3 linked regions of the Homo sapiens genome follow. The protein of the gene in region 1 interacts with the protein of each later gene in a biochemical or structural test. Each region holds a gene or a part of one and is shown in the gene's direction. Other genes may lie near its edges. The genes, in order: BRSK2, PIMREG and WEE1.

Region 1 (7,104 bases):
GCCCCCTCGGTACTGTGAAGCCCACCCAGCCAGTGCCCAGCACCATAGGTCCCGCAACCAGTGGGAGTCCCAGGAAGCCCCAGCAGGAGGGCACAGCCCCAGCCCCGCCCTTGCACCTCCCTCTCAGTGGCAGCTCCCAGACCCCCCACCTCCCACTCAGCTCCACCCTGGACCCCCACCTCAGGCTGCAGGGGTCACCTTCCACCTCCATCTTTGCCCTTAAGGCTCCTCTGTAAGGTCCTGGTCATCCTGTGCTGTGGCTGCCTGAGAAAAGCCCGGCAGGGGCTTAGCTGTGCCCGCTAAGTGGACCAAAGCTTTGGAGGGTGGGGGCTGGAAACGCCCCTCCCCCTGCTCCAGCCGTCTCCAACCGCACTGTGCCCCTCACGGAAGCAGAGGTGCCTGGGTGCTCACAATGTGTGCACGGTGGGGCTGGCTCGCCCCAGGGCTGCCTCCCCAGAGGGCCAGGGTGGGACCTGCCAGGCCAGCCACGCTCACGCTGCTCTCTCTCCACAGATTCCCAGTCTCAGCCACAGCGTCATCTCCCAAACGAGCTTCCGGGCCGAGTACAAGGCCACGGGGGGGCCAGCCGTGTTCCAGAAGCCGGTCAAGTTCCAGGTTGATATCACCTACACGGAGGGTGGGGAGGCGCAGAAGGAGAACGGCATCTACTCCGTCACCTTCACCCTGCTCTCAGGTGAGCTGGCGCCCCCAGGGCGGCTCCGGGCCCAGGCCCGTCCAGGGCATAACCCCCTGTCTCCCCTAGGCCCCAGCCGTCGCTTCAAGAGGGTGGTGGAGACCATCCAGGCCCAGCTGCTGAGCACACACGACCCGCCTGCGGCCCAGCACTTGTCAGGTGAGGCGGGCTCAGCTCCGGCCAACCTGCGGCCTGCGAGTGGGGCGTGGCCAGCTGGTGCTGCGCGGACGGGAGGCGTGAGGACCCGGGCGCAGCCTCCTGGCCCCTCTTGACGGACGCCCCCACCTCCCTGCCCCGAGCTGTGGCTGCACCCCTCAGGGAGCAGAGCCCCTCCCTGGCCTGGCGGGACCACCCGCCTCGCCTCTGCACGCCAGGGACATAGGGCGCAGCCGCACCACACTGAAAGGCGCCTCTTGTCCACCGTAGAACCCCCCCCACCAGCGCCAGGACTAAGCTGGGGTGCTGGGCTTAAGGGCCAGAAGGTGGCCACCAGCTACGAGAGTAGCCTCTGACGCTGGCAGGTAAGGCGCCCGGCCTGTGCTGGGGCGGGGAGGGGCTGCGGGCAGGTCCTCGGCGGAGCCAGGCTGGCCCTGAGCAGGGCCCTCCATGCCCACCCACAGGTCTCGGCCCTGGACAGGCCAAGCATGCCCCGGGCGGCCCATCTGCTAGGGCAGCCTGCACAGGACCTGGGAGAGCAGTGACAAGGCCCTGCCCTCGGGACTCCCCGCCATGGCACCCTAGGAGGGCCGCGGGCTGCCTGACGGGCTGTGACTTCTCATCTCTCCATACTTCCTGACAGCCCAGGGTCATGCCTCCAGCAGGGCAGAGGGGCTTGAGCCCAGCCAGAGCGGGGGCTTCACCACAGCCTGATGGGCTCACACAGGGGAGGGTTGCCCCAGCCTGGAACCACCAGGGTCTAGGACCCGAGGGTCCGTGCCACTCGGCATACGGCAGGGAGGGCTCCCCCCACTCCCCTGGGCCCATGTGTGGTGGGGGCAGGGCGGAGCACTGGGCACATGCATGGGCCTGGTCTGTCAGCAAGGGGGTGTGGGTGTGCCTCTGAACGCTGGTACGGCGTGGGGGCGCTGGGCGTCGTGGGGGAGCACCCGGCTGGACCCTGGGGGTCCCCTCTCCCAGCCTGCATCTCAGCAGCTCCGTGGCATGCTAGGGTCACCTCCTGTGTTTCCATGTGGGGTCCTGGAAGCCAAAGAGGGCCCCACTGCCCCTCCCCATGACATCCTCATTCCATCATCATGCCATCACCTGTGGGAGCCCCCCCAGAGTGTGCTTCACCTTGCTGCGGGCTGGGGGCTGAGGTCCCCAACAGCCCTGGCCCTAACCGAAGCCCCAGTGGGTGGAGGAGTAGCCCCCTTCTCCTGATTTTGGGAGCCAGGCTGGCACAGCGGGTAAGGAGGAGCAGGGTTCCAGGTGCTCGGCCCCGCAGGTACACGTGGCGCTTCCCTACAGCGGAGGCCATGCCGTCGGCCGGCAGCAGCCTCTGGCTCTCTGAGCCTTGAAAGCCTTCATCTTAGGAAGGGAAACCGAGGCCAGGGAACGACAGGGCAGCCACCTAGGCCAGGGATGGACAGGGCTTGTCTGGTAGGGCAAGCAGAAACGGGCCCCGGGGTACTGCCCAGGGTGTCCCCGCACCTGAGCAGCCATCTGGGTGCCTCAGTCGAGCGCTCCTGCGTGGGCTGTAGGCAAAGCTCCCCCAGCCTGGCCCCTTAAAGTGTGGTACCGCCTGTCAGCACGCAGCACTCCCCTGGAGCCAACTCCAAGCCCCTCTCCATTCCTGCCCCGGACCCTGACCTCAGTGGAGCCCACTGCAGAGGCTCTTGGGGGTCTATTCTGGGCCCCATCTATCTCCCTGTGGACTTGGGGAGCCCAGCCTATCCCCGTGATCTCGCTACGCCCAGCCCTTCCCAGCCCTGCCCCCCTCCCACACTGGATGCTTTTGTCCAGTGAGCCCAGCTCCAAGGATGTGTGGAAGGTGGCTAGCCAGCAGGGGGCCTCCTCAGACACTGCCCACCCCCCCAGAGACTGCGGCCGAGGGAGGGGAGGCTGAGAGCCCCCAGTGAGCAGGCACAGGCAGACCAGGGCGTGTGTCCACCCTGTGCAGGCGCCAGTGAGGGCCTTGAGGGAGTAGCCCCTCCCAGGGCCTTGCTCCCACCCCAGTCCTGGACTGGCAGCACCAACATCCCCAGGCCCAGCAGTAGGGAAGAGGGCCGAGGAAGAGGGTGCCTGCCTTGAGTTGAAGGGCAGCCGGAAGCCACAGGGCCCTGGAGCTGCTGAGTGGCACAGTGAGGATGCAGGCCACGGCCAGGGCAGAGTTGTCAGCCCAGGGGAGGGGCTAGGCCCACCCAGGGCACCGGCCATATCCAGGCTCAGGCTCAGGCTGCTGGAGGTCCGGCTGCTGCCCAGGTGGCTCCGCCTTGTTCCCTGCCTCCGCAGCCCCGCCTCACTCCAGGCCCTGCCCCTGCACTGCCCCTTATAAGCCCCGCCCCCTCTGGCTCTGGCCCCCCCAGTATTCCCCACCCATGCCTCTGGGGCCCTACCCACTCCTGGCTCCACCCCCTCCCCATCGAGGCTGTGGGCGTCCAGCCAGAAGGCCCAGGACAGCCTTTCACTCACTCCCTCCCTCCTCTCTCCATTCTGTACTCCAGACACCACTAACTGTATGGAAATGATGACGGGGCGGCTTTCCAAATGTGGTAAGAATCCCCCACGCTCACCTGGCACCTCCACCTGCCACTTCACCGCTCACCCTCAGCCCGCTGTGGCCGCCACCTGCCGCCCGGGTTGTCCCGGCCTCCCTGTGTAGATGTAGGCACCCAGCAGCCCAGATGTCCCCGGCCCCATCCTCTACCAGGAGCAGCCCAGGTCGCTCCCCTACCACAGCAAGCCCAGGCGGGGTTCCTGGCCAGACTCACCTCTGCCAGGCCCTAGGATCAGGGCAGGCCCAAGAAGGGGCTCCCAAGGCCTGAAGCCAGTGAGGGTCCCGCTGGTCCCACTGGTGCAGGCTGTGGCCTAGGGGAGGGGCCGGTGCCCATCCCTCTGTCCACTGGAGGCTGTGCCTGGCAGGGAGCGGAGGGGCCCACAGCTCAGGGCTCAGGTGGGGGTTAGGCTTAGGAAGTGGGATTGAGGGGCCTCCATCGACACACCTGGGCAGTGAGCACAGGGCCCCAAGAAGGGTGGGCTCCCCATTTCCGCCCCTCTTCTCAGGACTGCCCCCATCCCAGGGACCCGGGACATGACTCTAGCTGCTTGCCCCCAGCCCCCCAGCCTGCCTCCCACATCCACCCCTCCATGCTTGTCCACCCATCTGTTCATCTGTCTGTCTGCTGCTAAACTGTGTCCAAGCTGGCCAGGGGTCGGGCTTCAGGCCTCTCTGGGGAGGTGTGGTGGGCACACCCTCTCCCTGTCATCCACTGGGCCTCATGCAGTGGGGCCAGCAGCTGCCCCCAGGGTCCTGCGAGGCTTCAGAGCTCCCAGCAGGCCCTTGTCTTTACGCTGTCATCTCCGGCGTTGGGGTGGGTCGGCCCTCACGGCTGCAAGGTGGGGAGGGAAGGGGGGTGGGGCAGGGCCTTCCGGGCCAGGCCTTGGTGGGGAGGGAGGGGTCTCACCACCTGCCCCGAGCCTCGCTTCGCCAAAGGAGCACTGGGTCCTGCGCAACAGCTCGGAGGCGCTGGGGTCCTAAGTTCCTGGCCCCACGGCGCACAGCTTCCCCACCGCACAGCCCCCAGCGTACAGGGCCCCTGCCGGCCGCCGCCTGCCCACCCTGCTTGCCGCCCACCGGTCCCCGCTCGGCCCCATCTCAGCCTCATCTCTGGGTTCTTTCCCTCGTCGAGGCCTCTTCGTTCATTTGTTTGTTTGTTCTCTTTCTCTCTCCTTCCCTCCCCTCCTCTTTCTCTCCCCCTTTTTTTTCTTTTTTCCTTTTTTTTTTTTTTTTTGTCTCTGTTCTGTGTACCCAGGCAGCCCATTGAGTAACTTCTTTGACGTAATTAAACAACTTTTTTCAGACGAGAAGAACGGGCAGGCGGCCCAGGCCCCCAGCACGCCCGCCAAGCGGAGTGCCCACGGCCCACTCGGTGACTCCGCGGCCGCTGGCCCTGGCCCCGGAGGGGACGCCGAGTACCCAACGGGCAAGGACACGGCCAAGATGGGCCCGCCCACCGCCCGCCGCGAGCAGCCTTAGACACACTAGCCCCCCCCCCCAGCACAGCACTGACAGCGGCTGCCTCGCCGCCCGCCGCCCGCCCTGCCCCGAGTGGACCCGCGGCCGCGCCGCCCGTCCGTCCAGACTGTTCTCAGAGCCTGGGAGGAAAGGAAAGGGGCGTTGGGGCCGGCCTGTGGGCTGCGCCACCCGCGCCCGCTCTCTTTTCTCTCTGTCTCTGCCTCTGCCTGTCTCTGACAGCATCGCTTGTTTCCACTCTGATACCAGGAATTATCCCGAAAAGTTAACATGTCACCTCCACGAGGCCATCCTCTGTGACCGAAGGCAGCTGCTGCGGACCCGCCCTCCCTCCGCTCCTGCTGTTGCTGCCGGGCAGTGAGGCCCAGCCCAGCGCCCCGTCCACCCCGCGGCAGCTCCTCGCCTCAGCTCCGCACGGCCCGTGGGAGGAAGGCCAGGCTCGGGGGAGCCTCCTCCAGCCCGGCCGACCCGGACTCCCGGTCACCTGACCCCTCAGCAAGAACAGCCTGCCTGGTGGCCTTCTGGGGCCAGGACCCCTGGTGGGCAACGTAGCCACAGGAACAGGCCCCGTCCACCGCCTCCACGCCGCACCTGGAGGCCTCCTCGCAGGCCCGTGCCCCGCCTCCCTGGCTGCGCCGCCTCCGTGTAGTCTTGGCCTCCTCAGGCTGCCTCCCGTCCTCTCGTCTCACCCGCGCCTCCCTTGCCTCATCTGGGGCGGCTGTGGGCTCTGGCGCTCCTCTCTGGCTGAGGTGGAAACAGAGACACCCTGCGGCACCAGAGCCTTCCCAGCAGGCCAGGCCGCTGGGCTGGGATCAGTGTTATTTATTTGCCGTTTTAATTTATGGATTCTCCGCACCTCTGTTCAGGGAAGGGCGGCGGCCACATCCCCTGCCGTCTGCGTGTCTCAGGCAGTGGGGGGGCTGGGGCCAGGGCGCCCTCTGAGGACAGAGCTGGTGGGGCGCGGGGGGGCTGGCGAGCTACTGTAAACTTTAAAGAATTCCTGCAAGATATTTTTATAAACTTTTTTTTCTTGGTGGTTTTTGGAAAAGGGTGTGGGGGTGGGGGCGCCGCTGGGGCAGGGCCAGGTTTTGTGTTTTAGTCCCTTGCTCCTGCTTCTTTCTACACACACATCTAAAGACGGTGCGGCTCGCTCTGTCATGGGTTCCGTCTCTCTGTGGAGAAGCAGCTCCACCTCTGGGGGGGCTCGGGGCAGAGGGGCGGTGTCTTGTAGCGGGCGGCAGCGCCAGCGCCCCTCTGTCAGGCTGGGGCAATCTTGGTTTTGTGTCCAAAGGTGAAGGGGTAGGAGGAGGGCCCTCAGCTGGCCCTCCCCACACACAGGACGGCAGGGGCACTGTGAGGCTTTTCTTATTAAAATGAAAAAATTGAAAAAAAAGGACAAAGAGTCGGTGGCGCTCCTCTGCAGGGCGTTCTGTGCAGAGCGAGGCCCAGGGCGCAGCCCTCAGAGGGCTGCAGGCCCACCCTGCCCAGTGCCCGCCGCCGTGCTTCACCCCAGCTCCAGCTTCTGTGTTCCCTTCCGCCCATGTGCCCAGCCCTCCCAGGCGGGCACAGCCCGGGTGCGGCGGCCGTGGGGGACGGCGGGTCTGATGCATGCCTCTGCCATGGAGTCGTCTGTCTGCTTCGGTGCCTGCCCCTGCCTCCCACCCACCTCGTGTATAGATTTTAACGCTTCTGTTAACATTAGACCTCTGCCACAGGCTGGGATTTCTATACATAAGAACAAAAGCAAACACCTAGGACAGCAAACGCCAGGCGGTACAGGCGGGAAGGGGCTCTCCACGGAGATCGAGGACACGAAGCAAACTGCCTCTTGCTTGCCTTCCCCTTTTGTGCTTCGGACACACGCGGACTCCAGCAGGCGCCACGGAAATGGGCAAGCCCCTGCAGTGTACCCCTGTCATAACTGTGAGCAGCTGCAGCTCCGGAACAATAAATCCCTTCCGCAAAGACAGCGACGCAGGTCTTCATCTGGGCAGGGCGGGCGCGCAGGGCTCTGTGACAGCCCGGGACAGCTTCTTGTTCCCCACTTGCAGCCCCTGGGCTGCGCCAGTGTGAATGCAGCTACCCTCTGCCCAGCTGAAGAGGGTGAGATTCCGGGCGGCCAAGGTCAGAGGTCACTTCCGATGTGTGGGGCCATCCCCCGAGGCTGCCCCAGCCTGAGGCGGGCTCCCGTTGAGGGCCAGGGCCTGGGCGGAGCTCT
Region 2 (7,772 bases), on another chromosome or scaffold:
AGACTCCCAACCACTGGCCCACTAGCTCCTCACTTCAAACACCACACATTCAGGGAAGACTACCCTGACCTCCAGCTCCTGTCAATCTCCCCATGCCCCTTATACCCTGTCACTTCTCCCTAGCACTGCACATTCATGCTATTTTGCCCCATTGTAATTGTTTACAATGATGTGTTTAATGTCTATGTCTTCCATCAGATTGACAGTTTCAGGAGGTCAAGGAAACTAGTGGAATGTTTGCTCTTGGACAAAGAGCCCCTGGAGAGCAGGGCTGGAGCTCCTCGTTTGTCCCCCTCCCCAACGGAGGCAAGGGTGATGCTGGATTCCCTCCCCCTCCAAAAGCCTCTGCTAGGAAAAAGTGACTGGTTTTTCCTCCTTACCAAGAACAGAAGCCAATGTACCGACCTCTGGACTAGGAGCCTCCTTCCCCTGAGTACAGCCTCCTTCCCTCCCTCCAGCCACCACTCCACGCAAGGCAAAAGGGAAAGGCTTCCCATTCATAAGAAAATGTTTCTTCCCCCTTTACTTGTTGCCATGGAGACTGTTCTTCATTAACCTGGCCTGCCAGTTACCATTCTGAGTGAGGGAAGATGGTGGAAAGCTCCAAGCAGGGAGGGCCTCTTTATGCATGCATGCATTCATTGTTTCACCCCTGATCTTAACAAAGTTGTGTAATCTAAGGGTAAGAATTCAGGCTTTGAAGTCAGTCACTGGATTTAAGCTCCAGTTCTGACATCCCATACAATCTTGGACCAGATATTTCACCTGTCTGCATCTCACTTTTGTCATCTGTAATGGAAATAAAAAACGTACCTACTTCATAGAATTGCTTGAGGATTAAAAAAGAATAAAGAAAGTAAATGCCCTTAGCAGAGAGTCTGACACATGGTGAGGGCTCAAAAAATATAAGCTATTATTACGGATGCCTGTGACATGACAGGCACTGGGGAGGCTATTGTGATAAGACACTCCGGTTTGAGAGACTTGGCTTGTTTCTAAATGTTTCACCTTCATGGAGTCTTTCCCACACTTTCATCTTAGTTTTCATAGAAACAACAACTTTTTCTTTTCCCCCTTGGATTTCACTGGTAAAAGACATCAGTTAAATTCCTTAATTACAGTAACAAATGCAACTGTTGTAAACAGGTTTGAAAACAAGCATTTCTGACTCTTGATAAACAACTTCACTGTGAACAAAATGGACAGGCAAACTAGAGCAATATTTTGCAAACCACAACTCATACTCCATTAGTGACTCGTAGAATGAATATAGTGGGTTGTAACCATCAAGGTTTTTTTAAATGAAATAAAAAATAAAATCTCAGGTCATATCACACATAGTCAAGTATTGTTTCATGAAACTTTTGTTTCAGTTCACGTGTGTGTGTGCTGGGTCTCTTACAGTGAATGCTGGTTCCTTAAGCGTGGTGTTCCCTGAGCCAAGAAGATCACACACACACACACACACACACACACACACACACACACACACACACACATTCGTTGCCTGGTTAACTCATTCTCTAGGTCTCAGCTTTCAATAACATAAGTTTTGCATAGTTCTTTGATTAACTGATTATTGGTTATTTGATCCTTTCATGTCTATGTCTCCCCACACACTAGATTTGAGCTCCATGACAGTAAGGAATGTATCTGTTTTGTTGACCTTTGTGGCCCATTTTTTAGCACAGTGCTTAATGGATCACAGGCAAGAGGGAATATGGGGGAGGAGGAGGATTGAGGAGACCAGGGTGACTTCAGCTAGGGTGTGTTTATCTAAGATGCCTGCAGCATTCAAGAGGAGATGAGACCCAGGAGGTAGTTGGCTATACATGTCAGATGAGAGGCTCAAGCTGGGGGTGGAGGTGTTAGGGGCTGAGGAAGGCAGTGTGGTGTGGTGGTTAGGCACAGGGACCCTAGCCCTAGACTGATGAAGTTTGAACCCTTGGCCCTGGTGTAGACTAACTGAGTGAAATTTGGGCCCTACCAAATTCTGTATTCTCAGCTTCCTCATCAAGTGTAGGTACAATGAAGATGTCAGTCCGTTTTCTGTTGTTATATCTGAATACCACAGACTGCATAATTTATAAAGAAAAGACACTTAGCTCATGGTCTGGAGGATGGGAAGTTCAAGAGCATAGCACTGGCATCTGGTTGGCATCTGGTAAGGGCCTTCTTGCTGTGTTGTAACATGGCAGAAGGCATCGCATGGTGAGAGGGCAAAAGCGTGCCTGTCAGCTCGGGTCTCTCTTCCCCTTCTTTTAAAGCCACCAGTACCATCATGGGGGCCCCATCTGTTTGATCTTATCTAATGCTAATTACCTCCCAAAGGCCTCACCTCATCAACATACTGGACGTTGGGAATGGTAGGTGCAAGGAAGGAATAGGAGAGATTTGTTAAAAGACACAAAGTTACAGCTAAATAGGAGTAATAAGCTTAGTATTCTATAGCACTGTGGAATGACTAGAGTGAACAATAATATATAGTTTCGAATAACTAGAAGGAAGATATTGACTCTTACCAACACAGAAAAACGATAATGTTTGAGATGATGAATATGCCAATTACCCAGATCTGATCACTCTACATTATATGTATCAAAACATCACTATGTGCCCCATAAATGTTTAATTATTACTTGTCAATTTTAAAAAAAATTTTAAAGAAAATTACAAAGTAGCTCATACTTAGAAAATAATATATGTACAGGTATGTGTATACACACGCATTTATAAAGTGATACGTATAAAATTACTTACATATATGGTTTAAAGAATAATAAAGACTAGGCAAGGTGGCTCACGCTTGTAATCCCAGCACTCTGGGAGGTCAAGGCAGGAGGACTGCTTGAGCCCAGGAGGTTGAGACTGCAGTGAGCTATGATTGTACCACTGCACCTCAGCCTGGACAACAGAGCAAGATCCTGTCTAAAAGAAAAAAAATAAAAAAGAAGAAAGTAAACATCCATGTGGCCACCACCCAGCCTACAAAATGGAACATTATCTTTGAAGTCCTTTGAGCCCTTTCCTCATTACATCCTCTTCTCCTGCCACCCTTCCAAAAACGACGACTTATTTTATTTTGGTGTTTCAATTCCTTTGCTTTCCATAATAGCTTTGTCCACAAATGTATGTGCATATTCCTAAACCATATTGTTGAGCTTTTTTGCGTTTGAATTTATACAGTGTCATACTTTATGTTTGTCTGCATATTGCTTTTTTTTAATCTAACATATTTCTGAGATTGACTTAAGTTACACCATCTGGCTACAATTTGCTTATTTTTCAGTGCTGTATAATATTCTATAATTTGAATAAATAACAATTTATATGTCTTAAAAAATGCCACCGATAGCCAGGAACGGTGGCTCACGTCTGTAATCCCAGCAGTTTGGGAGGCTGAGGCGGGTGGATTGCCTAAGGTCAGGAGTTCGAGACCAGCCTGGCCAACATAGTGAAACCCCATCTCTACTAAAAATACAAAAAATTAGCTAGGCGTGGTGGCAGGCACCTGTAATCCCAGCTACTAGGGAGGCTGAGGCAGGAGAATCGCTTGAACCTGGGAGGCGGAGGTTGCAGTGAGCCGAGATCATGCCATTGCACTCCAGCCTGGGCAACAAGAGTGAAATTCCGTCTCAAAAACAAACAAAAAATGCCACCGATATATGAATTTGGGCATTACATTTCCAACATGTGAAATTTGAGGGACACATTCAAACCATAGCAGAGGATCAAGTAAGTTAATAAACTGCAACACCGGTACCTGTGCATACTAAGTGCCATATACACGTTAATCATTATCATCATCCTTTCCTTGGAAATCACTGAGGCCAAAGGAGTGGGTGAGACCACCCAGAAACGGAGAGGGCTGAAGACAGAGTCTCAAGAAGCCATCATCTCAGGCTCTTGTGCGGAGAAGTAACAAAGAAACCAGCCGGGGGAGTGGGCAGCACTGCTCTGAGGTCACCGAAAGGAGAAAGATGAGCTGGAGAGAGCTTTATAATGGCTGCATTTGTTTGGATGCTAAGGAGAAGAGAGGCAGGCATTCCGCTGGAGAGAGGGAGGGATGCGTGGGGCAAGGCGGGGGCGGGGAGCCGGTGTAGACGGGTGGAGGGCAGACCGGTACTCTGGTCTATCCCCGCTTCCGGGACGCGTTTTCTAGGGAGGGCGGAGCGTGGATGGCGAGTATGGGGAACTCAGAGAGGGACAGTGTCTTGTCACAGGAAGGGAGGGTCAGGAGGGAAATTTGAAAGAAAACGTCTCTGGGAACCCAGGGCTCTGCACTGCCAGTCCCTGGCTCCTTCTGACAAAACCACTGAGCAAGAAGGAAAAGCCAGACCCCTTGGCAGGATGAGAGGGGTCTCTGCCCGCTGCCGGGCCTGGGGCCTGGGGCCTGAGCCAGGAGGCCTAGGTCCCAGGACCTCCGCCTCCACCCCATGGGTCAGAGCAGCCTGAACCCTGTGCGCGCTCCAGGGAGGGGACCCGGTGTGCGATGCGCGGGGGCTGGGCTAGCAAGGGCAGTGGCGCGAGCGGGACGCAGGATACAAAGCCCGGAGCCACGAGGCTGGCGGCGGGGCGGGGGCCGGAGCGATGAATGGGCACGGCCGGGCCAATCCAAGCGCAGCATTTGCAGCCGCGAGAGAGGGAGCCAATCGGATCCCCGGGGCGGTGGCGGTGGCGGGGGCGGGGACGGAACCAATCAGCTGTGAGGACGGGGCCGGGGGCGGAGCCGCGCAGAGTTTCAAATCGGCTGCGGTGGGCGAGGAGCAGCTGTGCTGCGGCTGTGCTCGGCCTTAGTGGTGTCGGGTGAGTGCGGGCTGGGCACAAGTTTCGCCCTTGTTGCCCAGGCTGGAGTGCAATGGCGCGATCTGGACTCAAAACAATTTTTTTGTTCGGAGGGGAGGGCATCAGGTTCTGTTCACAGGGGAGGGCATCAGGTTCGGACACGCACGGCCTGTGGGGTCGTCTGGGTACCACAAGAAGTCGGATCGAAATCGGGGCGTCTGGTGGGAAGGCCGGGGTCTGGGCGGGTGCGCGTTTGGTCTGGGCGAGCTGGTGAAGAAGATGGTGATCGTGTCCTGGGCCCAGCGCTGAAGCTCGGCTACGGCGTGTCTTGACCCTGCCTCCCCTCCTCGCCTGAGCCAGAGAGAGGAAGGAGGTTGGGATGAAAAGACAGCTGTTTTGGAAACTTGAAGGGCGGGACATCAGAAATGCTGCTGACCCGAGGCCCCTCTTCCAGGAAGCATCCTCCTTCCTGCACCCACACTTACCAACTCGCCCGCCCCCGCCACCCCGCTGCATCCCGTCTCTTCCCCTGTGTCCAGGGTCTCTGTGGGGCCTGGGAATGGGTATGGGGAATGCCTTGCTGATCTGCCTTTCGCCCTCCTCCCCAGGGTCTAGTGGACAGAGAAGACTCTTGGCCAGGCAGATGGCTTCTCGGTGGCAGAACATGGGGACCTCCGTGCGCCGGAGATCTCTCCAGCACCAGGAGCAGCTGGAGGACAGCAAGGAGCTGCAGCCTGTGGTCAGCCATCAGGAGACCTCTGTAGGGGCCCTGGGGTCCCTGTGCAGACAGTTCCAAAGGAGGCTGCCCCTGAGAGCCGTCAACCTCAACCTCCGCGCAGGGCCCTCCTGGAAACGCCTGGAAACCCCAGAGCCAGGTCAGCAGGGCCTCCAGGCTGCAGCTCGCTCAGCTAAGAGTGCTTTGGGTGCCGTGTCCCAGGTAATACTGACAACACTAATCATCTTTTTTATGGAGTGTTTCCTTGGTGCCAGGCAGTTCCTGCCCTCAAAGAGCCTCAAGAATATAGACTTCATGAAAACAGGGACGTTGGTTAGTTCACTGCTGTTTCCCCACCACCCCAGATAGTTCCTGGCACATATAGGTGCTCAACAAATAGTTGAATGAGTGAATGAAAGCATGTCTTGGAGGAAACAGATGCTCACAATACCAGGTGATAAGAGCTGTACGTGATAGGAAATTGCAAAGCAAGTGACCAATAGTGAGGCTCACCAAATGCAAGCTTAGTCGGTGAAGGCTTCCCAGAGGAGGTGATTCCAGAGTTCACCCAGGGAAGCAAAGGTCAAGGGGTATTTAGGGTAGGGGAAATAGTGCAAGTCCAGGCCTAGAGCTGAGGGAAAGCAAGGTGTACTGCCCACTCAGCTGTGTATCCCTGAGGAGAGCCAGAATTGTAGTCTGGGTATGAACAGATGACAGAGAGCAAGGTAGAGCAGGGGGAAAGGATATGAAGGAGCTTAGAACTCTCCCAGGAATGATCAGGAGTCCGGAAGATTCTAAACAGTGGAAAGTCTGGTCTAATTAGCATATTAGAATTTGCCCTTTAGCTACATGATGGAGAAGGGAATAGAGGCAGAGATGCTCCTGATGGAGACTAAGGGTTTGGACTTGCAGGGGATAAACTTCAGGAGCTGCCGAGAAGGTCCAGTTAGAGGGGATTTGCTGTCAAATGAGAGCTGCTGTCAGGAAGACGTCCTTATATTGGATGTAAGTGTCTGTGGACCCTTCAAGGGATGCATCTTTAAACCCAGAGCTGGAGGTGTAGACGTGTCACTTAGAAAGGACAGAAGCCATTAGGATGAACAGACCTCCAGGGAGAGGATTGGGGGCTGCAGAGGCTTCTCCTCGGTGTCTCATTGGGAATTCTGAAGATGAAAGAATTCTCCAGAAAGTGGGTGGCTCTTTCTGGACCCTCTGCAGAGAGCTCTCTGAGCCAAATGTTAGTCCTTATTTGGAAGCACTTTTTGATTGTTTTCACCACCCTCAGGGATCAGAGAAATGAAATGAATTTGTCCAAGGTCACATAACTCATCAAATTTAACTTGGGCTTCGCTCCAAACACTGGGCTCTGGCTTGTCAAGGCAAAGACAGTCTAGCTGATGAAGAAGAGCCTTCACGGCTGTCACCCGGCTGGTGTGAAAGGCCCAAGAGTTGGGGCTTGGTCCTATGGGCAACAAGAAGCCACAGAAGAGTTTTGAGCAGTTGAGTGTCACGGTCAGAACTGCCCTTTAGAAGGATCACTATGGACCACTGTGGAGGGTGGATAGAGTGAGTGAGACCCGAGGCAAGAAGACAGGTGCTCTCTTGGTGTACAGGGGGTGCTGGGCGGGGTGGCCTGTTCTTTTGGGGCCCTCTCCTTCAGTCCTGGGGTCACCGTCTGTCTGGAAAGAGAGTTTGGACTTAGACAAACAGGCTCCAGGCACCAGGGGGGTCCTCCTGCGGCTGACTGCTGCTGTCATATCCAAGAGCTCTGAGCTGGGTCCCAGCCGTGGACTCATTCCATGAGGAGTCATTCACATCCTTCACCCTGGAGACTAACAATAGCCTGTATTTACAGGACACTTGCTGAGTGTAGGGGTTGCTTGTATGGTCTGGAGACCAAGGTAGCTCACCCTTGGTTTTTTTTTTTGTTGTTGTTTGTTTGTTTTCGAGACAGGGTCTCACTCTGTCGCCCAGGCTGGAGTGCCATGGTGCGATCTCGGCTCACTGCAACCTCCGCCTCCCGGGTTCAAGCGACTCTCATGCCTCAGCCACCCAAGTAGCTGGGATTACAGGCACCCGCCACCGCGCCTGGCTAATTTTTTTTTGCATTTTTAGTAGAAATGGGGTTACACCATGTTGGCCAGGCTGGTCTCAAAATCCTGACCTCAGGTGATCTGCCTGCCTCGGCCTCCCAAAGTACTGGGATTATAGGCGTGAGCCACCGCGCCCGGCCTAACTTTTGGTTTTGTCTGTGCTAACCTTTCCATTTGCC
Region 3 (6,920 bases), 8.1 Mb from region 1:
AAAAACCTTCCAATTTACAAATACCATCACAAAATAAGTTGTCCTATAAAGAAAGTAAAACGTATAGATGACTCCAGTAAATGTAACATAAATTTAATACTAAATATTTGTGCGTGTGTGTGCGTGCACGCGCGCGCACACACACACACACACACACACACACACACACACACACACATATATATATATATATATATATATATATATATATATATATATATACTTTTTTTTTTCTTTTGAGACAGGGTCTTGCTCTGTTGCCCAGGCTGGAGTGCAGTAGTGCGATCTCGGCTCACTGCAACCTCTGCCTCCTGGGTTCAAGCGATTCTCCTGCCTCAGCCTCCCTAGTGGCTGGTATTACAGGCGTGCACCACCATGCCTAGTTAATTTTTGTATTTTTAGTAGAGATGGGGTTTTGTCATGCTGGCCATGCTGGTCTTGAACTTCTGACCTCAAGTGATCCGCCCACCTTGGCCTCCCAAAGTGCTGGGATTACAGGTGTGAGCCACCACTCCCGGCCTTATTTTTTAGAGATAGTCTCACTCTGTTGCCCAGGCTAGAATGCAGTGGTGCAATTATAGCTCACTGCAGCTTTGAATTCCTGGGCTCAAATGAACCTCCTGCCTCAGACTCACAAGTAGCTGGGACTACAGGCATGCACCACCATTCCCAGCTATTTTAATTTTTTTCTTTTTCTTTTTGTAGAGACAGGGTCTCACTATCTTGCCCAGGCTGGTCTCGAATTCCAAGTCTTAGGTAATCCTCCTACCTCAGCCTTTCAAAGCACTGGGATTACAGGCTTGAGCCACCATACCTGGCCAATACTATACTGATAAAACTATTAAAATAGAATCTGCCACTAAAAGCTCATGTTAATTATGATCTTACCTGAATTTGAAGAAAAAAGGTAATGTGTATACAATAGGAAATAGTGAATCACAAAGCCATATTGCAAGGTAGATGCTATATGGTCAGCCAGACTCACTGGCTAAATGACTCATTCTGCTCACACCAGCCTTATAGCGCTACATTAAAACTTGTGCTTTCACAGAATTTCACAAATTACTGATACTACCTTTTTTGCTGAAGGGTAATGTGCTAGAAGACAAGGGCCTCATCCAGTTTAAAGTGTTTAGGATCAGTGCTAGGCTGGAAAATATATTCCCAGAGGCCCAGAGTGGTGGCTCATGCCTGTAATCCCAGCACTTTGGGAGGCTGAAGCTGGAGGATCACTTGAGGCCAGGAGTTTGATCAGCCTGGCCAACATAGTGAAACCCCGTCTCTACTAAAAATATAAAAGTTAGCTAGATGTGGCATGTGCCTGTAGTCCCAGCTACTCAGGAGGTTGAATGAAGCATGAGAATTGCTTGAACCTTGTTGCAGTGAGCCAAGATCATGCCACTGCACTCCAGCTTGGGTGACAGAGCACACTGTCTCAAAAAAAAACAAAAAAAATTCCCAGCAACTATAACCCTGGTTTCTGTCCCCTGAGATGCTTATTCCATGGGTTTGGGCTAGAACTTGAGAATCGGCATTTTAAAAAGCATTATGGATGATTCTGGTATATGATCTTGTTTATGAACTCTGGTTTTATTATTATTAGTTTGGCTTACATAATTAACTGTTTGACAGGTAATATTTTCATATCTCGAACCTCAATCCCAAATGCTGCCTCTGAAGAAGGAGACGAAGATGATTGGGCATCCAACAAAGTTATGTTTAAAATAGGTAAGAAAGGTAATCAGATTATTACCTTCAGATAAAGAGAAGGCTGTTTTGTTTTTGCTCTTCACTGTAAGTTTTTCAATACTTCTAGGTGATCTTGGGCATGTAACAAGGATCTCCAGTCCACAAGTTGAAGAGGGCGATAGTCGTTTTCTTGCAAATGAAGTTTTACAGGAGGTAATTTTTCTTCTCCCTTAATCATAGTTTGCTTTGTAACACTTAGCAGTTGATAGAAGAATATAAATTCAGATATATTAAACTTTGAAGTTAACTAATAGAATGGAAATAAAATCTAAACCGTCATCTGAGGGCATTTAATAAGCAAAAAGTCATGAAGGCAAAGATTTATAATGGAGTTGTCGTAAAAAATATGTTCTCATACACCACTGGTGGAACTTTATAATGGCATATCCTTTTTGGAGATCAGAGTATTAGTATTGCATTAATATTTAAAAATCATGTACCCATTGACTCATAATTTTCACTTCTAGGAGTTTTTCCTATAGAACTATTCATATACAAATACAAGTTGAGAACAGTGTAAATAAGTGTTTACTAATAAGAGAATGATTAAGTAAATTATGGCACATAGTTATTAGTATGGCCTATAGTTTCAAAAGAGTGTGACAGTATTTCTTGATAAAAATTTTGAATGAAAATAGAATAAGTAGAAAAATATAAAGTGTAATTGTCTGATCCCATTGCTCTTTGTAAATATGTGTATATATATGTTTGCTTTATCACGTATATGTGTATTTGTAACTTGTCAGTGTGTTTCTACGTGTTTTGTGTTTGCATATGAATGCCTAGAGGTAGAGGGATTTCTTTTGAGAGTTGAATTGGGCTGTTGATAAAGAAGAGGCATTTACTCTTATCTATGTGTTTGCATTTTTCCCCCAAGAGTGTGTATTACTTTGTAATTTAAAAAATAAACATCCTCAAATTTAGCAGTTTATTCTCTGAATAGGTCCCAAACTTAAATGTGGTATTAGACACTTTGATTAAGTCCTATTTTTCACCTAAGTCATCTTTGAGGTGTAATCTTGTTTTATTTTGACCATGTTTACATTCCTTTAAAAAATTGTTTTAATTTTACAGAATTATACCCATCTACCAAAAGCAGATATTTTTGCGCTTGCCCTCACAGTGGTATGTGCTGCTGGTGCTGAACCTCTTCCGAGAAATGGAGATCAATGGCATGAAATCAGACAGGGTAGATTACCTCGGATACCACAAGTGCTTTCCCAAGAATTTACAGAGTTGCTAAAAGTGAGCATTTTATATATGAAGCCCTTTATTGACATGGTTCTATATTTTATTAAATGCATGTCTTTACCTTCATTTTACTTTTCTTTTTAAGGTTATGATTCATCCAGATCCAGAGAGAAGACCTTCAGCAATGGCACTGGTAAAGCATTCAGTATTGCTGTCCGCTTCTAGAAAGAGTGCAGAACAATTACGAATAGAATTGAATGCCGAAAAGTTCAAAAATTCACTTTTACAAAAGTAAGTGAGGGTTTTATGTTTTCTTTTTGCTTTTTCATTCACTTTAATTCTCAAATTTTAATGAGAGATGATTTAAGCTTTCTGTCAACAAAGGATGTAGTGGTTTTTTGTGTTTTTTGTTTTTTGAGACAGGGTCTCACTGTCATCAGGCTGGAGTGCACTGGTGCTATCATGACTCATTGCAACCTCCACCTCCTGGGCTCAAGCTATCCTCCCGTGTCAGCCTCCTGAGTAGCTGAGCCACAGATGCATGCCACAACACCCAGCTAATTTTTATATTTTTTGTAGAGATGGGGTTTTTGCCATGTTGCCCAGGCTGGTCTTGAACTCCTGGGCTCAAACCATCCACCTGTCTTGGCCTCCCAAAGTGCTGGGATTATAGGAGTGAGCCACCTCACCCGGCTCCAGTAGTTCGATATGTTGTTATACGGTGAAAGCTTGGGGACTTCTGCCATGAATTAGTATTTGGCCTATTAAATTTGTGTTGTTTCTAAACTTTCAAATTACGAACTTTAAAAATGTTGAGACTAACATATATTTGCAAGTGGTGATAGTCCCCAAGCCATAAATGGTAGTAAAAGCTAAGCGAGCCTATACCAATCTTTTCTTCCCAGACTCTCACCAAAAGTTAACGTTGTCCTTGAAACATTCTGTTCTTATTTTATGAAAGGATGAAATTAATGTCAATTTGGTTAGGAGATGATTCTCATATATATGTTTTTAATTTCTGGCTAAATCTTTATATACTGAATGAAGATTCTCATATTGGACTTAATGACTTGATATTTTCAAAAAGCTGGTTGCAATGGTAAAGGTTATTAAAAAGAGAATATTGGAGAATATTAAGTTACCACAGATCACATTTCTAATTCTTTTGATTTATTGCAGCCATTTTGCTTTTAACCTAATAAAACTGACTTGAAAAGGTTATGTTAACAATTAATATTAACATTTAATATTTAAATTATAAGAATTGTATATTAAGAGGTTTACTTGCCACTAGTTTGATATCCATCATAGTTCATACAAATAGGAAATAAAGTGTTCCTTTCATCTCTCTTATGTAAGGATAGATTCGCAATATAAATTGGAGTTTTTGAAATTATTATTTATTTTTAATTTTTTTTTTATTGGGGATAGGTTTGTCTGGAAATTGTTTATTATTATTTATTTAAAAAGATGGGGTCTTGCTCTGTCACCCAGGCTGGAGTGCAGTGGCACTATCATAGCTCACTGCAGCCTCAAACTCCTGGGCCCAAGCGATCCTCCAGCCTCAGCTTCCCGAGTAGCTGAGACTACAGGTGTGAGTCACCACATCCAGCTCAAATTATTTTATAAGAACCAAAGTCATTACTAGCATCTTTACTACTTGTTTTCAAGTATGTGTGATACTGTAATTCAAAAAGCATAAAATAAAATAATTTCATAAATTTAAGTTGTTTTAATAGAAGCTTCAGTTTCCTGTTTTATTTTTCAATTACATCTTAGAATAATGATGGCATGCAAATATCTCCCAATCGACAATATAGTTTGTGTTAGTTTCTTAGAATCTCTTCCTAGGAATAATACCTTGTTTTCTATTTTTATGTCAGAGAACTCAAGAAAGCACAGATGGCAAAAGCTGCAGCTGAGGAAAGAGCACTCTTCACTGACCGGATGGCCACTAGGTCCACCACCCAGAGTAATAGAACATCTCGACTTATTGGAAAGAAAATGAACCGCTCTGTCAGCCTTACTATATACTGAGCTACTCCTTTCCCACCTCCCCCTGAACACTGTGACAAGAGGAAGCTAGGTTGAAATCACTGATAGAATCCAGTTTGCAATTACTTTCTCGATTGGTGTCAGTAGTTTTACTGATTAGGACTTTTATTGTGAATTACAGTTGAAAGCTGTATTTTGATGATTGCTATGTCAGGCTTTCATCTAATCTTACCAGTCTGTCTTCTGTAGGATGTGTCACTGTTGGATGTTACACCAGCCTTTCCAGGGTTAACCACTGTGGTGGTGTGCTGCTTATAGTTTGCTGTTGCATTGTAATAAAAGGTGTCTTTCCCTGTAGTGACCTGTAAAAAGTACTCAAGGGCTTTATTACAGACATACCCTCCCTTTGAAAAGGGACATGCTAAAAGACTCATTACTACTCAGCCTTCAATGTACCTGTGTGTCCATCTTATATTTCTTTTTTTTTTAATTGTGAATTAGACTTGTATATCCCACTGGGAGCACTTTGTAGGCATTGCATGAACCATGGGATGATGATTCTGTGGAGGTATTGCCTTGTGAATTTGCTGCTATTTTAGTTTTGTCTTTGCTGTAAACTTGTAGCATTAAACAATCATTGTTGTTAATAGGTCTTCTTTTTGAAACAATTATGTGAAATGTATAGCTGCTTTTGATGAAAAGCAGCTATTTGCCTTTTTTTTTTTTTCCTTTGAACTTTGAAGCTAGTGCATTGGAAAAATGCACCCTTTCCCTCCTTTGGAATGCTGTATTAATGTAGTATAATAATTACTGGTTTTGTAACTTGTTCTGGTAATGTCCTTCCCGGACTCTTTTTAAATGTCTCCCCCTAAGTTTTATACTTGATTGTATTATTAGTCTGTTTTTAAATGTTTTGCCCGGTTTTTCTCTTCAATATTTGTGTATATAAACCGATCTTCGTGATACTGTACATAGCTGTTTGAAATGCCAGAATGACTTCTGACATTCCAAGTTTTTCACAAAATATATTTTATCTGTGATTAGCCATTTGACTAATAATACTGGCTAACAGATGTTGAAAAAAATTGTCTGTTTGTTTTCTCATTAATTTTGGTCTAAAACATGTTTGCACTTGTCTTTGACTTGTGTTTTATTAACATTGATTGGCATATTAAAAGTCACTCTGAGCTTACCTTAATTGTCTAAATCCTTGTGATGCCTGTTTTCTAATATTTTATCTCTATTATTGCTATACTATAAAATGTATAGTGTGTATAATGTACTATTATAAAAGCAGAGGGCACATTTTGATTGAATATGAATATCACATTGCATGTTATGCATGTGACTTGCTAGAAATGTAGCATGATGTAATTTAAAATATCTTCAAATTATTAAGTGAATATAATATGATTCATAACTTTCTGATTTGTACTGAGTCACAGAAAACTTTAAAGTGGGGAGGTTTTGTTTTTGTTTTTAAGATGGAGTCTTGCTCTGTTACCCAGGCTGGAGTACAGTGGCGCGATCTCGGCTCAATGCAACCTCCGCCCCCTGGGATCAAGCGATTCTCCTGCCTCAGCCTCCTGTGTAGCTGGGACTGCAGGCATGCACCACCACACCCAGCTAATTTTTTGTATTTTTAGTAGAGACGGGGTTTCACTAAGTTGGCCAGGCTGGTCTCGAACTCCTGACCTCAGGTGATCTGCCTGCCTTGGCCTCCCAAAGTGCTGGGATTACAGGCGCCTGGCCCTTAAAGTGGGGAGGATTTTAATTCTCACTAAACTAGGCTGGGTTTTAAGATTTGAGGCCAGGCGTCTTGGCTCACGCCTGTAATCCCCACCACTTTGGGAGGCCAAGGCAGGAGGATTGCTTGGGGCCAGGAGTTTGAGACCAACCTGGGCAACACAGTGAGACCCTATCTCTACAAAAAACAAAAAAGAATTGAGTGCAAATTGAAGTGATAATGTTATTTCTATGGCATC

Evidence for each region.
Region 2: of the proteins of BRSK2 (region 1) and PIMREG, one has a biochemical effect on the other in vitro, tested with the Homo sapiens proteins (one study listed by BioGRID).
Region 3: of the proteins of BRSK2 (region 1) and WEE1, one has a biochemical effect on the other in vitro, tested with the Homo sapiens proteins (one study listed by BioGRID).

The regions. Positions count from the first base shown.
Region 1 is NC_000011.10:1,455,835-1,462,938, forward strand, and holds the end of BRSK2 (serine/threonine-protein kinase BRSK2), read left to right. Parts: intron 1-513; coding exon 514-694; intron 695-763; coding exon 764-853; intron 854-1,120; coding exon of another isoform or gene 1,121-1,206; exon of another isoform or gene 1,207-1,215; intron 1,216-3,357; coding exon 3,358-3,405; intron 3,406-4,665; coding exon 4,666-4,889; 3' UTR 4,890-5,135; coding exon of another isoform or gene 5,136-5,155; 3' UTR 5,156-6,855; downstream 6,856-7,104. UniProt on the Homo sapiens protein: Serine/threonine-protein kinase that plays a key role in polarization of neurons and axonogenesis, cell cycle progress and insulin secretion. Phosphorylates CDK16, CDC25C, MAPT/TAU, PAK1 and WEE1.
Region 2 is NC_000017.11:6,439,683-6,447,454, forward strand, and holds the start of PIMREG (protein PIMREG), read left to right. Parts: upstream 1-4,772; 5' UTR 4,773-4,806; intron 4,807-5,393; 5' UTR 5,394-5,428; coding exon 5,429-5,722; intron 5,723-5,728; exon of another isoform or gene 5,729-6,349; coding exon of another isoform or gene 6,350-6,505; intron 6,506-7,772. UniProt on the Homo sapiens protein: During mitosis, may play a role in the control of metaphase-to-anaphase transition.
Region 3 is NC_000011.10:9,583,626-9,590,545, forward strand, and holds the end of WEE1 (wee1-like protein kinase), read left to right. Parts: intron 1-1,632; coding exon 1,633-1,728; intron 1,729-1,816; coding exon 1,817-1,902; intron 1,903-2,823; coding exon 2,824-2,994; intron 2,995-3,085; coding exon 3,086-3,231; intron 3,232-4,823; coding exon 4,824-4,977; 3' UTR 4,978-6,360; downstream 6,361-6,920. UniProt on the Homo sapiens protein: Acts as a negative regulator of entry into mitosis (G2 to M transition) by protecting the nucleus from cytoplasmically activated cyclin B1-complexed CDK1 before the onset of mitosis by mediating phosphorylation of CDK1 on 'Tyr-15'.